Regions from separate parts of the Homo sapiens genome. Here all the other regions are linked to region 1. Evidence: fine-mapped expression QTL. A gene starts in region 1. Each other region holds a variant in brackets. All regions are shown on one strand. Distances are between the middles of the regions. Region 1 holds the start of ZNF483 (zinc finger protein 483). Region 2 overlaps PTGR1 (prostaglandin reductase 1). Region 3 has its middle 15 kb from the start of PTGR1.

The links. PIP is the estimated chance that this variant, and not a neighbour inherited with it, causes the effect.
Region 2: its variant is fine-mapped to the expression of ZNF483 in fibroblasts (GTEx, PIP above 0.99). The same link has a PIP of 0.9 or more in monocytes.
Region 3: its variant is fine-mapped to the expression of ZNF483 in skeletal muscle (GTEx, PIP 0.92).

Annotation. Positions count from the first base shown.
Region 1 is chr9:111,523,566-111,526,413 of GRCh38, forward strand. ZNF483 (zinc finger protein 483) reads left to right here and starts at 1,614. Exons shown (of 6, transcript NM_133464.5): 1 at 1,614-1,697. RefSeq lists a silencer at 1,517-1,866 and enhancers at 1,967-2,166, 2,278-2,777.
Region 2 is chr9:111,566,839-111,569,338 of GRCh38, forward strand. The region is part of intron 9 of PTGR1 (prostaglandin reductase 1); the gene reads right to left. It also overlaps a transcript of ZNF483 not described here. Among named protein-coding and RNA genes, the nearest start is that of PTGR1, 32 kb to the right of the region's middle. The variant T/C (reference allele first, on the strand shown) is at 1,487.
Region 3 is chr9:111,613,149-111,615,996 of GRCh38, forward strand. It overlaps the pseudogene LRRC37A5P. Among named protein-coding and RNA genes, the nearest start is that of PTGR1, 15 kb to the left of the region's middle. The variant A/G (reference allele first, on the strand shown) is at 1,325.

The DNA.
Region 1 (2,848 bases):
GACTCGGGACTGAGAAAACTTTTGTCTTCATTCTCAGCCCTGTTTCTTTTTTTTCTCTTTTTTTTTTTTTGAGACGGAGTTTCACTCGTTACTCAGGCTAAAGCGCAATGGCCTGATCTCAGCTCTTCACAACCTCCACCTCCCGGATTCAAGTGATTCTCCTGCCTCAGCCTCCCGAGTAGCTGGGATTATAGGCATGTGCCACCACACCTGGCTAATTTTTTGTATTTTTAGTAGAGACAGGGTTTCTCCGCGTGGGTCAGGCTGGTCTCAAACTCCCGACCTCAGGTGATCCACCCGCCTCAGCCTCCCAAAGTGCTGGGATTACAAGCATGAGCCACCGCGCCCGGCCATTCTCAGCCCTGTCTCTTCAGCTTGACTTGCTGCCTGTGATAAGCCCACTCCTTTTGAGAGGAGTGGTTCATTTAGTTGAGCTTGCTCTGCCCTTTTGAAGTCTCAGGGCCTTGAATCACCTTGCTCCTTCAGTCTAGAATGAATCTAGTCTTTCTCTCCTAACTCCACCCCTTCAGGGATCATCCAGTTATTAGAACCCTCCAAACAATTTTTCTGGAGTTCTTTGGCCCTTTTTGCAATGCCCCCAATAATCCATGCAAATACTCATTCATAAGCTCAACAAATATCTATTGAGTGCCTGCCATGGGCCAAGTCCTGTTCCAGGACCTAAACACACAACCTAGAACAAATGAAATAAAAATACTTACTCTTCTGAAATTAGTATTCTACTGGAGAAGGCGGACAAGTAGTAAAAAAAAAAATTAACAAACCTATAGGGCATGTTAGAAGAGGAAACAAGAGTAAGGTGGGATTCCTATTTAAGTGGAATGGTGGGAGAGCTTCATTGAGAAGACCTGAAGGGATGAGAGAGCGGGCCGTATGGCCACTTAGGGAAGGAGCAGGTCAGCCGGAAGTACCTGGCAGGTTACAAGAAGAGGAAGGGGTCTATCAAGATTGGAGCAGGAAAGTGGGGAAGAGGTGCGGGAGGTTACAGGGGCTAGATTCCATCAGGCCTTGTAGGCCACTATAAAGACTTGGGTTTTAACTCTGAGTGAAATGGGAAACCATTGCAGGGTTTTAAGCAAAGGAGGGTCATAATTTGACGTTTTTAAAACGTCCGTCTGGCTGTGGAGAATAGCCAAGAGAAGTAAGGTATAATCAAGAAGCTATTGCAATAATCCAGGTGAGCCATGAGGGTGGACTGGACCATGGGGGCAGGTGTGGAAGTCATAAGATTAATATGTGTTTAACTCAAGTTGTGGCATTAATTATGGCTTGCATTAAATGCATCGGTAATATGCTTCTGCGGTGGATTTTTCCACCTTAGATTTCAGGGAATGGAAGTGATGGGAGCGGGTAGGGAAGGTCTGAGGTTACTAAACAGATGGAGCCTCCTGGATCTGCAAACCTCATACGATTCTAGGCCTCTGAGCCTCTGGCGCAGCAATAATTCTGCAGCCGAGCCCACTAGCCGCTTCCCAGTGACCATGCGCAACAGGCAGGTGGGAGCCTATGGAAAGCGCGGACTTTCGGAAAGCTGCACGAGCGCGTTCGGGGAGTCCGGTTCAGCGCCTCTGCGCAGGCGCAGTGGTTCCCGCAGGCTTGCGCGCGCACTCGCTGCGGGACAAGCTTCTGGAAGCTCTTTGCGGTGGCGTTGGTGCTGTTTGCGGATGCTGATGCAGGTACTGGTCGTCCCGGGCCCCGAGTTTCGGGGCCGTGGCCGGGTCGCCGGCTCCGAGGGCGCACTTGGGGCGGGATGGGGGCCGGGAGCAGCCTACCAACGGGCTGTGCGCTGCGCTGCTGCTGCTTCTGTGGGAGGTGCGCACTCCGCTGCGGGATGGGGCTGTTGGCTTCCCTCCATCCCTCCCTGCGCCACTTGGGCACTGTTGACATTTTGGGCGGGATAATGCCTTGTTTTGTTTGTGGTGTGGCGGTGAGGGGGAGGCTCTCCCGTTGTGGCAGGATGTTTAACAGCGTCACTGGTTCTGCCCGTTAGATAACAGTACCACCTCTCGTCCTAGTCGAGCTAACCAAAAATGTGTCCAGACATTGCCAGAGGACCGCTGGGGGGTGAAATCTCTCCTTTTTTCTTCCCTCTGGTTGAGATCCTCTGGCTGCGTCACATTTTCACCGGGCCTCCTATGTAAACTCCCTGTAGACGGAGCCGAGTGTCTTAGTCATCGCGGAGCCCCAGGTGCTCAGCACGGCGCCAGGTACGTGGTGGGCGCCTAATATTTGGCAGAGGAATAAATGACGTCATGCTGCTGTGTGCCGGGCGCTGTACTCGGAAGTGGGTTGTTATTGGTATGGTAGTTGCAATGCGAGGCTGTCACATCCTTCACTTGTCGCATTGTAGTCCCGCTCCGGCTGTATTGTCATTTCCTGGACCCTCTGTGAGCGTGAGGACCCTTTCAGGCCTGTCCACGCCTGGCCCCGCAGCTCATGGCCCCTGGTCTCGTTCCAGCTCATTGTAGTTGCTCCGTCACTTATAGAATGAATGAATGAATGCAACACAGGGCAGTCTGTGTGCAAAGGAGTGCTTTGGGATCAAGCAGAGCATCACACCAGAAGTGACAGTTGAAAGGAGTCAGGCTTTAAAGACGAATAAAAGTTTGGTAGGAGAAAGAAAGCAACATTCCGAGGAGAGGGAATAGCCTTGGTGCAAAGGCTAGGAGAGTATGTAGAGAGAGAGGAGATACTAATTTATGGCTGTAGTGTCAATCGGGTAGCTAGAGCTCAAGAGGTGAGGTCATCAGACAGTGTCTCTAGATCACAATGCCATGGTCCCTGCATGTGAACTTTATCGAGAGACAGTTCGGTGGCTGGTGAGGGA
Region 2 (2,500 bases), 43 kb after region 1:
GTATATATTATGTTAAAAGATGATTAATTGCTATGGATAAAAGTAGGATAGGAGCCTGGGCAACATGGTGAAAGCCCTTCTCTACGAAAAACACAAAAAAACTAGCCAGGTGTGGTGGCACATGACTGTTGTCCCAGCTACTCAGGAGGTTGAGGTGGGAGAATCCCCTGAGCCTGGGTCAAGGCTGTGGTGAGCCATGATCACGGCACTGCACTCCAGCCTGGGTGTCTGAGACCCTGTCTCAAAAAAAAAAAACAAAAAAAGTCGGGGGGCGTGGGATATGGAGGATCAAGAATGAAGAGGGAATGCAACTTAAAATAGGGCCATTTAAAAACTTGCCTCACCTGGAAGGCACTTTTTGTTTTTTTGAGATGGAGTTGTACTCTGTCACTGTGCTGGAGTGCAGTGGCACGATCTTGACTCACTGCAACCTCCGCCTCCCAGGTTCAAGCGATTCTCCTGCCTCAGCCTCCCAAGTAGCTGGGACTATAGGTGCACGCCACCATGCCCAGCTAATTTTTGTATTTTTAGTAGAGACAGGGTTTCACCATGTTGGTCAGATGGTCTCGATCTCTTGACCTTGTGATCCACCTGCCTTGGCCTCCCAAAGTGCTGGGATTACAAGTGTGAACCACCGTGCCAGTCCAGACGGCACTTTTTAGCAAAGGCTTGCAGGACGTGAGAGAATTCAGCAAGCAGTTACAGAGGGGTGGAGGAGACTGGGCCAAGTAAATAAGAGGATGAATACTAAGAAATGAAATCAGAGAGATATCAGGGGTCAGATTTTGTGTAAGCTTACTGAATATTAGCACTTTGGTTTACTTTAAGTGAAATGCAGAGCTTTGCATGGTTTGGATCATAAGAACGGCAGGATTTGATTTGTGCCTTAACAGATCGCTATGGCCACCACATTGGGAATTGTCTATAGGGATGCAAAGATGGGAGGCCAGGTAGAGTCCACTACTGTTGCGGGAAGTCAGGGACCCCAAACGGAGGGACTGGCTGGAGCCATGGCAGAGGAACATAAATTGTGAAGATTTCATTTTAATATGGACATTTATCAGTTCCCAAATTAATACTTTTATAATTTCTTACGCCTGTCTTACTTTAATCTCTTAATCCTGTTATCTTTGTAAGCTGAGGATGTATGTCACCTCAGGACCACTGTGATAATTGTGTTAACTGTACAAATTGATTGTAAAACATGTATTTGAACAATATGAAATCAGTGCATCTTGAAAAAGAACAGAATAACAGCGATTTTCAGGGAACAAGGGAAGACAACCATAAGGTCTAACTGCCTGCGGGGTTGGGAAAAACACAGCCATATTTTTCTTGTTGCAGAGAGCCTATAAATGGATGTGCAAGTAGGGAAGATATTGCTAAATTCTTTTCCTAGCAAGGAATATTAATAATTAATATCCTGGGGAAGGAATGCATTCCTGGGGGAGGTCTATAAATGGCTGCTCTGGGAGTGTCTGTCTTA[T/C]GCATTTGAGATAAGCACTGAAATACGCCCTGATCTCCTGCAGTACCCTCAGGCTTATTAGGGTGGGGGAAAAACTCCGCCCTGGTAAATTTGTGGTCAGACTGGTTCTCTGCTTTCGAACCCTGTTTTCTGTTGTTGAAGATGTTTATCAAGACAATATGTGCACAGTGAACATAGACCCTTATCAGTAATTCTGATTTTGCCCTTGTCCTGTTTCCTCAGAAGCATGTGATCTTTGTTCTGCCTTTTGCCCTTTGAAGCATGTGATCTTTGTGACCTACTCCCTGTTCGTACACCCCCTCCCCTTTTAAAATCCTTAATAAAAACTTGCTGGTTTTGTGGCTCAGGTGGGTATCACGGTCCTACTGATATGTGGTGTCGCCCCCAGCAGCCCAGCTGTAAAATTCCTCTCTTTGTACTCTTTCTCTTTATTTCTCAGCCAGCCAACACTTATGAAAAATAGAAAGAACCTATGTTGAAATATTGGGGGCAGGTTCCCCCGATACACTACAAGCATCCAGGCTAGAAGGCATGGTGCCTGGACCAGGGTGGTAGCAGGGAGGTGGGAGAAGTGTTCAGATTCTGTATATATTTTGAAGATAGAACCACCAGAATCTCCTTAGAGATTAGACATGGGTACGACAGAAAGACATCAAAGATGACCAAGGCTTTTGGATTGAGAAACTAGAAGTATAGAATTGTTATAACTGAGATAGTAAAGTCTGAATATGGAGCATGTTGAGCAGGAAAGATCAAAATATATTTAGTTTTCAAGATGTTATGTCAGAGATGTGTATCAGGCATCCAGGTGGACATACTAGCCTAGAGTTAAGAGGAGAGCCAGGCTGGAGATAGAGATGGGAACTCCCAGCATACTGAGCCCAGACGAGCTAACTAAGGGATAGCTCAAGCGTAGATAGAGAAGAGCAAAGTCCCAGTGACCATGACCTGGGGCACTCTAATATTAATTTGGAGTAAAGAAAAGCTAGCAAGAGTCTGAGGAGGACCAATCAG
Region 3 (2,848 bases), 90 kb after region 1:
CTCCTTTCAGTCTTTTCAGCATCTAGCAGCTAGAAGGAGCTTTTAAAATGCAAACTGGGCATCAGTACTGGCAGATACTAAAACTTCCAGGAAGGACATGAACTGCTTTGCCTAAGAGAGAGAGAGAAAAAAAATTTGGAACTCCCCAATTTAGAATGAAAAATTAAGAAAATGGAACTCCCCATTTTAGAAGGAAAAATTAAGAAAAGAGTAGAGAGAATGGCTCTGGGTTACATAATGGATTCCTTAATCACTGGCTAAGAAATAAAAAAGGAACCTCTGAATATTGGAATGAATTAATTTTCTTGTGGAAATTGGTGAAGGGGCTAAATATCCTAATGATCTTGGAACAAAATAGAGCTCACATTTAAAAATAGCTAGCAGGACGCAGGAGGAGGCAAGCCCAGGGAGCTCACAGGCATTGTGGGAGAACTTTGGACTATCATGGAACATAGAACTTGGATTTGTTCCAATTTAATCAGACCTCGGAAGGGCAGAGGAGCCACCCACAGATGGCTTTGGGTTATGTTTGGGTTTTACTTGCCAGCTTGGGGGCATTGTTTAGATATCAGCTGTTGGTCATGCTGAACTGTGAAACAGGCGTCATTCCTTATTTGAGGTCTTATTACCTTGGTTTGTGAATTATGTGGGAAGGGTAAGGGTGAGTAGGACCTGCTGATTTGGATTACTTACCTGGATTTATAACCAGATGCATCCATCTGGTGGCGCTTAGGAGGAACTTTTTAGCAACTCTCAGTGGTGTCCTAATTTTTTCATTCAAAAGAATCTGAAAACAAGCCTGGGCAATATAATGAGACCCCATCTCTACTAAACTTAAAAAAAAAATGAGTGGGGCATGGTGGTGCATGCCTGTAGTCATAGATACTCAGGAGGCTGAAGCAGAAGGATTGCTTGAACCCAGGAGTTGGAGGCTGCAGAAAGCTATGATCACACCACTGTACCTCAGCCCAGGTGACAGAGTAAGACTCTGTCTCCAAAATAATAATAATTTTATATATATGTATATATATATATATATATTTTTTTTTTTGAGACAGGGCCTCACTCTGTCGCCTAGGCTGGTGTACAGTGGCATGATCTCAGCTCACTGCAACCTCTGCCTCCCAGGTTCAAATAATTCTCCAGCCTCAGCCTCCTGAGTAGCTGGGACCACAGGTGCGCACCACCAAGCTCAGCTAATTTTTGTATTTTTAGTAGAGATGTGGTCTTGCCATGTTGCCCAGGCTGGTCTTGAACTCCTGAGCTCAAAGTGATCCACCTGCCTCTGCCTTCCAAAGGGCTGGGATTACAGGTGTGAGCCACT[A/G]CACCCAGCCTAACAATAATAATTGTGTTTTTTTGTTTTTTGTTTTTTGAGATGGAGTCTTACTCTGCTGCCCAGGCTGGAGTACAGTGGCGCGATCTTGGCTCACCACAAGCTCCACCTACCGGATTCATGCCATTCTCCTGCCTCAGCCTCTCGAGTAGCTGGGACTACAGGTGCCCACCACCTTGCCCGGCTAATTTTTTTGTATTTTTGGTAGAGACGGGGTTTCACCGTATTAGCCAGGATGGTCTCGATCTCCCGACCTCATGATCCACCTGCCTCGGCCTCCCAAAGTGCTGGGATTACAGGCATGAGACACCGCACCCGGCCAATAATTTTTAAATATTTATATGAGAGGCAGAGAAATTTTGTAGGAAAGGAATGCTTTGTATGGAAGAGAGTTAAGATGCACAAAGACAGTAAGTGGTTCAAGATCAAGGGGAAAAGTGAGTGCTCAGCTCAGTGTTGGTTACTTGTATCTTACTTCAGCCCAGACTCTTGGGCTCATGCCCAAGTTCCAGCTCAGGGGGACACCAACAAAGAAAAAAGTAAGAACTTAAACAAGTGGCTTCATTAAACTCTCTGTGACATACTGAGTAGCTTTGTTACATAGATGGGAGATGGCACCAGTGACTTCGACCCTATCGGAGACATTGGGATTCGTCAATCTAATTACTCATGTGGAGGGTGCCCAAGGATACCTTATGTTTGGAGAGTCACTGGAAGGGCTCACGGGACCCAGACTATAGTTGTATTCATGGCTAAGGTTTATTACGGCAATGTAATGAGGAGGGAGAAAGACTCAGGTGGAGCCTGGGGAAATCCATGGGCAGGCATCCTACTGCCCCCTCCCTCCACGAGGAATTGCACAGTGCACTCTTCCTTCAGCAATGAAAATATATTTCCCCAGCAGTAAGCATTCAATGTTTCTGCTTATTAGAGGGAAACCCATTAGAGTCTCAACATCCAAAGTTTTACTAGGGTCTAGTCACATAAGGCACCCTCTGCCTAGCGTGTACCAAAATTCCAGACCCCCCAAAGGAAGGCAGGTGTTCAGCATAAACCACACTGTTTGTATAGTCTAGGCAGAATGGGCCACCCTTGTCAGTTAGGGAATGGTGGGGACACGCTTCAAATCCAAGTTCCCAGACACCAGCCCAAGGCCAACATCGCAATCAGGCTTGCTATGTTAACTCTTCTGTACATCAGTAAAACCTCTAGCAATAGTGAAGTCATTAAGAGAAATTTCGTCCTGGAAATTTTCCACCAGAATTTCTAATGTTGTATGGTGTATGCACAGAAGTTAGGATTAAATATGTTAAAGCTTGGCAGCTCTTCTAACTGGTCTATATTCAAGAAATATATTCAAGGCAGGGCAAAAGAAAAAGAATATAGCCAATTGCAAATGAGGAGGTAATTGGTTCTTTGACCATTTGTCCCTGAAGCACAGCTGCAGATTAACACTTCCTTGTGGGTCGTTCTCATCTCAGGAGGACAGCTGATGTACATAGACACACAGGGAGG